Linked DNA regions of Homo sapiens. The protein of the gene in region 1 interacts with the protein of each later gene in a pairwise test. Each region holds a gene or a part of one and is shown on either strand. Other genes may lie near its edges.

The links.
Region 2: the proteins of BEND7 (region 1) and PPP1R37 interact in binary tests that used the Homo sapiens proteins (3 or more experiments, as listed by UniProt).

The regions. Positions count from the first base shown.
Region 1 is NC_000010.11:13,494,515-13,498,014, reverse strand, and holds part of BEND7 (BEN domain-containing protein 7), read left to right. Parts: intron 1-1,126; coding exon 1,127-1,249; intron 1,250-3,500.
Region 2 is NC_000019.10:45,141,679-45,145,178, forward strand, and holds part of PPP1R37 (protein phosphatase 1 regulatory subunit 37), read left to right. Parts: intron 1-382; coding exon 383-533; intron 534-624; coding exon 625-780; intron 781-1,842; coding exon 1,843-1,955; intron 1,956-3,175; coding exon 3,176-3,317; intron 3,318-3,415; coding exon 3,416-3,500. UniProt on the Homo sapiens protein: Inhibits phosphatase activity of protein phosphatase 1 (PP1) complexes.

The sequences.
Region 1 (3,500 bases):
TATAATTTTAAAGTTGTAACATTACAATTTTGCTACAATTTTGAATGTAAATAATTGTACCACTACAATCACTAAGTTATCCTGAAGTATTTCATGGTTTTGCTCTGGTGAATTTTTCTATAGTATTCCTAAATAATGCATATTACAGGATTTAAGGTATATAAAGTATAATAAAACATATAATTGGAACAAAACCATGGAACTTACCTTGCTGGCCTGTGAGACAATGTGAGCGCTGGAAGTCTCTAAACTGCTCCATTTTATGGTGGTCAGGTGAACAGGTGCTGGAGGGAACCCACTGTAAGAGCAATGTCCAAATGTCCCATTTTATTCTAAGGACAATAGAAGATACTTGCTTACCTATGAGAGAAACAGAATAAGATAGGTTTACCAAGGAAAAGGCATTAAATTTAAACAGTGCAAAAGAGGCTGTGGCAAGGGAAAGATAAGACATGGGAATGGAGAAAAGAGGTAGAGAGATTTTCTTTGTGAAGCTGAAGAAAAGCCAGCCAGCCCACCAATACCCTCGAACGCATCCAATTCGAATATATCCTCCCATCCCTGCTCCTCTGTGCTTCCCCACCCCAAACGCCACACCCAGAGAGTATTCTAAAAGTTTTCATGTGTGCACAGTTCTTTGTTTTTGAAATAATGTGCTTAATATCAAAACTATTTTCAATAGAACTCATATAATTTTTAATATGAACTCTTAAACACAGCTACCAAATTTTTTTTGCAAGGCTGTCCTCAGGGCTCCTTTTTTGTGTGAACTAGCATGAGTGTGTTTCGAGTGAGTTTTTGAGGTGTTGTTATTTGAGATGAACAGCTCTGACAATAGGGAGGCCTGCTGTGCCCACTCATTGTGTGTGTGTGTGCATGCGGGCTCCCGCACCGCGCCACAGCACGCACGTTACAGTATGGAAGCCTGGATAATTAGATAAAGTCAGACCCCCAGATTTAGGTTGTGATAATTAGTGGGTACGTTTTCCTTAGGCACAGCTTCATCATAATTGCACATGCTTCAAAATCCTGCCAAGATACTTTCTTTTTTCTCTCCACCTCTTTATGATTTTTTTTTTTTTTTTTGGTTTGTTTGGAGTATGTCATTCTTTTCTTTCATGCTCAGGAGAACTTCCAGTGGTGAATTCATCAGCTGGATCAAACTGCTGTACTTGTAACTGCCAGTCAACGTTGCAGGCCATTCTACAAGAACTCAAGACCATGAGGAAATTAATGCAAATTCAAGCAGGTACAAGGATCAGGCCTCGGAATGAGTCCTTTGATTTTTAATGCATATCTGACATCTTCCGTTGGAATGTTCATTGTGCTTTTATTAAAGCCTTCTTCTCACCTTGCTGTCTTGCTGTGCCTTTTCAAGTATCTGTTTTTTCAGCTTTCTCTACAATCCATTTTTCCTTTAGCAAATCAAACATATTTTGTCTTGCTACTGATACAGCTCATATAATTATGTGTATGTACTCGATAGACTTCATTCCATGATCTCCTAGTACTTCACAAATGTCAGTTAATTAAATTTGGGAACAACTGTGTATGGAGGGGTCCTTTAGGAAGCATGGGCTTCAGTGTTCAAGCACTAAGCAGATAAGAAATGTGGAGCCCCAGGCTATGCTTTGTGGCTTTTCTCTCTCCTATTCAGGATGCGGAAGCTCAGAAATCCGCCGTGTTCTGTCGTCTTTGTTTATGTGACTCCTTTTTGTTTTCACTGCCATCAGGCAAGTTGAGGGACGGAAGAGCAGTGGATTTGTAATTTGGGATTGGATGCCAATTTCTGCTTTTGGAGCTGTGTGGCGCATCTGAGCTTCCTATTTCACGTCTGTAAATGGAGAATTCATATCTAACTCACAGGGCTGTTGTCAAAATAGAATGATGTAGTAGCTGTCAATGAACTTTATAAGGCATGGTACAAGCCTAAGCTGTTTCATTAGTGTGGTCTTAAAGTCCATGAAGCGTTCTATAGAAGTCTGGAAGTCTACGTCTTCATTATAGCAGCTGTATTTTCTGATCTTCACAATTGAGGGAAAACAGAATTGTTTTTGTCACAGGTACAAGAAATAAATCATTGTATTAAGTTTTCCCTCTTGTCAAGGGACATCACCACTTGATCTAAGCCATGTCGTGACTGGCTTTCCTGCCCTTTCATCAGGATGGTAGTCCGGAAGGTCGTCACTCAGAAGCTGTTCAGGATGCCATTTAGTGAATTCTAGTATAATTTTAATATTCAGTGATGTGGTTTTGATATAAAAAGCTTAATTAATACTTAGATATATCAGTCACCCAAGATCACATTAAAGTAATGTGAGCTACTTTCTGAAAAACAGCATCTTTTTATTTGAGATGGAGTTTCACTCTTGTTGCCCAGGCTGGAGTGCAATGGCATGATCTCGGCTCACCGAAACCTCTACCTCCCAGGTTCAAGCGATTCTCCTGCCTCAGCCTCCCTAGTAGCTGGGATTACAGGCATGTGCCACCACGCCTGGCTAATTTTTGTATTTTTAGTAGAGATGGGGTTTCTCCATGTTGGTCAGGCTGGTCTCAAACTCCCGACCTCAGGTGATCTGCCCGCCTCAGCCTCCCAAAGTGCTGGGATTACAGGCGTGAGCCACCGCGCCGGGCTAAACAGCATCTTTTTAAGCACTGAATTTGGTTTTACCCCAAGGAAGTATTTTGCTCAGGTCAGTAAGCATTGGACTCACCTTGTTCCACTACGATAATCTGTGTTCTTATTAACCTGGAGGAGGTTAACATCTCCTAAATAAGGAGCTCAGAAAGAAAGGTTACTTTATGATGTTCGGATTCTTTTCTCCGAGGAGGAATTTGTTAGCACTTAAGAAAATATGCATATGAAATTGTAATGATTTGTTTTGTCACTTAAGCTCCTTACTACTGAAATGGCAAACTACAAATTGCAACCATTTAAATCCTTGACGGAAGCCTTTTTAGAATCTATTAAGTAAATGCCACTTTGTCGCTATGTTTTCTTTTCTGAACCTTTGCAGATTAGGGAGGTAAACGATTCCAAAGCTGTAGGATGGCACAAAGGATAAACTGAATAAATTACTCTCCTTTAATTTTCTTAAACTTAAAAATTTGTGTCATGTGGGTAGATTTACTTAAGGTTTAATGCCTGAAGACTTAGATTTAAATTACATTTAGAAAGTTTCACCTTTCTTTTAAGAAGACAGGGAATAAGACCTAGAGGTAAGATCTGGATGCCAGAGACTTGGGCTGTGTCTAGATTTGCAAAAGGAGAAGAAAAACTCAGATAGTCCCCGTGTTCCTTAAACCAAAACATTTTCATTTCTAATTGAGAATCATGAGGCTTAGCAAGGCCTGGGGCCTAGACCATCGTGATCATTATTCGAGGTCCCTTTGATTCTGAGGGTGCAGACCCAGCCTTGAGGGGGAATGCAGAGAGACCAAAGAGAAGTTCCCAACTCTGGCTGCACAGCAGAATCACTGGAAGAGCTTTCAGACAATGC
Region 2 (3,500 bases), on another chromosome or scaffold:
GTAATGTCATCCTTCTGTAATGTCATCCCCTTGGAGGTGGCCATGGTCGCCATCCCCACGTCACTCCTGTGTGAAGGCTGGGTGGAGGGACGGGACGGGGCTATCTGGTAACCTCCCAGCCACACAGGAGTTGGAGATCCTGGCTGCCACCAGCCCTGCCTCGCTCACCCACAGGACCCCAGGCTGAGCCTTCCCTCCCCAGCCACAGTTACCCCCATTGTAAAACAAGGCGACATAGCCAGACGACAGCTGTGGCTTCGTTGCTCATTGAGACATGGGGGCACAGGTCCTGGGGCCAGGGAGTGCTGGGGCGGTCCTGGGGCCAGGGAGTGCTGGGGCAGGCCTGAGCCAGTGCCTCACCCCTGTCCTCTTGCCCCTGCAGACGAGCTGCCTGCAGTATCTGGACGCCCGCAACACGCCCCTGCTGGACCACTCGGCGCCCTTCGTGGCCCGTGCCCTGCGCATCCGCAGCAGCCTGGCAGTGCTGCACTTGGAGAACGCCAGCCTGTCGGGGCGGCCCCTCATGCTGCTCGGTGAGCCCCAAGCCCGGGAGGGTGAGCAGGATGTGCAGCCTGTTGGGGGGCAGGGGCCTGCCCAGTCACCGTGCCCCCTCCCCGTCCCCAGCCACGGCCCTGAAGATGAACATGAACCTGCGGGAGCTGTACCTGGCGGACAACAAGCTCAACGGCCTGCAGGACTCGGCCCAGCTGGGTAACCTGCTCAAGTTCAACTGCTCCCTGCAGATCCTGGACCTCCGGAACAACCACGTGCTAGACTCGGGTGGGTGCAGTGGCCCACCCCACCCACACCCGTCACCCAGCACCCACTCTGCCCGGCCCTGCGCTAGGTGGTGCTGGGGACACAGACATGGCCAAGACCACCCCAACGCTGTCCTGCTGGGGCTCCCAGGAGGAAGACAGACCCGCCCTAGACAGTGACAACCTAGAGTGGGCAGGACTGGGCTGGTGGAGCCCAGAGGCGGGGTCCGATCAGTCTGGGGGCCAGGGAGGGCTTCCAGGAGGAGGAGACAGCTCAGCTGACAGCCGCAGGATGAGGCGAAGTGAATAATTACAATCTGAAAAGAAAGCAGTGTTGCTGCCATAACAGGGTCAGCTAGAGGCTGCTTTCAGATGGGAGAGGAGGGAAGACCACCGTGGGGCGGGGCCTCTGGGCTTCCATCCGGAGGCTGGGAGCAGAACCAGCCTTGTGAGAAGCCTGGGAAAGGGTCCAGACCGCGGGAGCAGTGAGTGCAGTGGGAGGAGCTCTGGTGTTTGATGCTGGGGGTTGAGCAGAGAATGGGGAGCCGTCAAAGGAGGCGTTCCTGTTGCATCCTGGAGGGGTGGGGTGGGTCACTGTGTCCCCAGGTGGCAGGCCCAGACCCCACTCTACTGAGCACCTGCCAAGGGCCATGGCTGTCGGCCCCTGGGCTCAGCTCGGAGGGAGACACAGGGCTCTGCCCTTGGGAGTTTGTACTCCAGTCTAGAGAGACAACGATAAGATGAGTGAAATCTCCAGCCTGTCAGATGGTGGGATCTGCATTGGAGGGAGACAGTGGTGACTGTGGGTGGGAGTGAGCTGGCTGTGAGGTGAGGTGGGCCAGAGGTGGTCACATTTGAGCAAAGATCAGAAGCATCTGGTGGAGGCTGTCATCCAGGCACCCAGGCCCAGGGGTCACAGATGTGTGCCCAGGGGTGCCAGGCCGAGGCAGGGCTGCAGGGCAAGGCCTGGGACTGCGGGGCCTCCATGGAGGTCCTAAGCAGAGGGGGTTGCTCCTACCCTGCAGTCCCCTCCCCAGGAAGCACCCGGACCCCAGACAGGGCTCTGACTGCCGGCCTCCTCCAGGTCTGGCCTACATCTGCGAGGGCCTCAAGGAGCAGAGGAAGGGGCTGGTGACCCTGGTGCTGTGGAACAACCAGCTCACGCACACAGGCATGGCCTTCCTGGGCATGACACTGGTGAGTCAGGCTGGCAGGGAAGGGAGGCACCTCGGTCCCCGCTGCCACCTCCCACTCCAGCTCTCAGCACAGTTGCCTCTAGCTGACGGCTCCTGTCCTGCCCATCCTGCAGGTTCAAGACGATTTAAACTCAGCCCCACCTGCTTCCTCATTCAGCTTCTGTGCCTGTTTTCCCTGAGGAGGAGCCCTTCTTTCATTATCTCCTTTTTTTTTTTGAGACCGAGTCTCATCCTGTCACCCAGGCTGGAGTGCAGTGGCGCCATCTAGGCTCACTGCAGCCACTCCAGCCCCCGCCTCCTGGGTTCAAGCCATTCTTCTGCCTCAGCCTCCCAAGTAGCTGGGACTACAGGTGCCCGCCACCCCGCCTAGCCAATTTTTTTATTTTTTATTTTTATTTTTTTTGAGACGGAGCCTCAATCGCCCAGGCTGGAGTGCAGTGGCTCGATCTCCGCTCACTGCAAGCCCCACCTCCTGGGTTCACACCATTGTCCTGCCTCAGCCTCCCGAGTAGTTGGAACTACAGGCACCCACCACCACACCCAGCTAATTTTTTTGTATTTTTTTAGTAGAGAGGGGATTTCACCATGTTAGCCAGGATGGTCGCAATCTGACCTTGTGATCCACCCTCCTCGGCCTCCCAAAGTGCTGGGATTACACGCGTGAGCCACCGCGCCCGGCCTAATTTTTGTATTTTTAGTACAGACGGGGTTTCACCATGTTGGCCAGGCCGGTCTTGAACTCCTGACCTCGAGTGATCCCCCCCACCTCGGCCTCCGAAAGTATTGGGATTATGAGTGAGTCACCGTGCCTGGTTTTCAGTTTTTATGTGGTGCTTAAAGCAAGCCACTCAGGTACAGAGACTCTCAGGGCGAGCACTCGTGTGCTCAAACCCCGGGATAAGAGTTGCCCTCCTTGGGGGCTTCAGGGCGCTCAAGGTCCAGGCCCTGGCCAGGGGCCCAGGCTGTGGGGGGTAGGGACTGACTGGGTGCCTGGGGAGCTGGGAGTGGACGGGGGACCTGGCATTTGGGGAGACTTCAGGCACAGGAGGGACTTCAGGCCAGGCCTGCGGCAGGGCAGGACGGCGCCGGTGTTCACGCAGGCGCGCGAAAGAAAAGGAGCGCCCGGGCCTGGCTCTCTTCCCGGCTTCTTTCCTGACTTGGCCTCCTGGGTCTCCTCCGCCATCACGGCCTCCTCCTCACCCTCACACCCCCTCCCTCCAGCCGCACACTCAGAGCCTGGAGACGCTGAACCTGGGCCACAACCCCATCGGGAACGAGGGTGTGCGGCACCTCAAGAACGGGCTCATCAGCAACCGCAGCGTGCTGCGCCTCGGGCTGGCCTCCACCAAGCTCACGTGCGAGGGTAGGGTACGGGGCCGGGCCAGGGTGCGGGCTGGTGGGCTCAGCCGGGCGGCCAGCCGGGTGTGGGGCCCGTGGCCAGCCCCTGCGGTGCCCCCCCAGGCGCGGTGGCGGTGGCGGAGTTCATCGCTGAGAGCCCCCGCCTCCTGAGACTGGACCTTCGGGAGAACGAGATCAAGACAGGCGG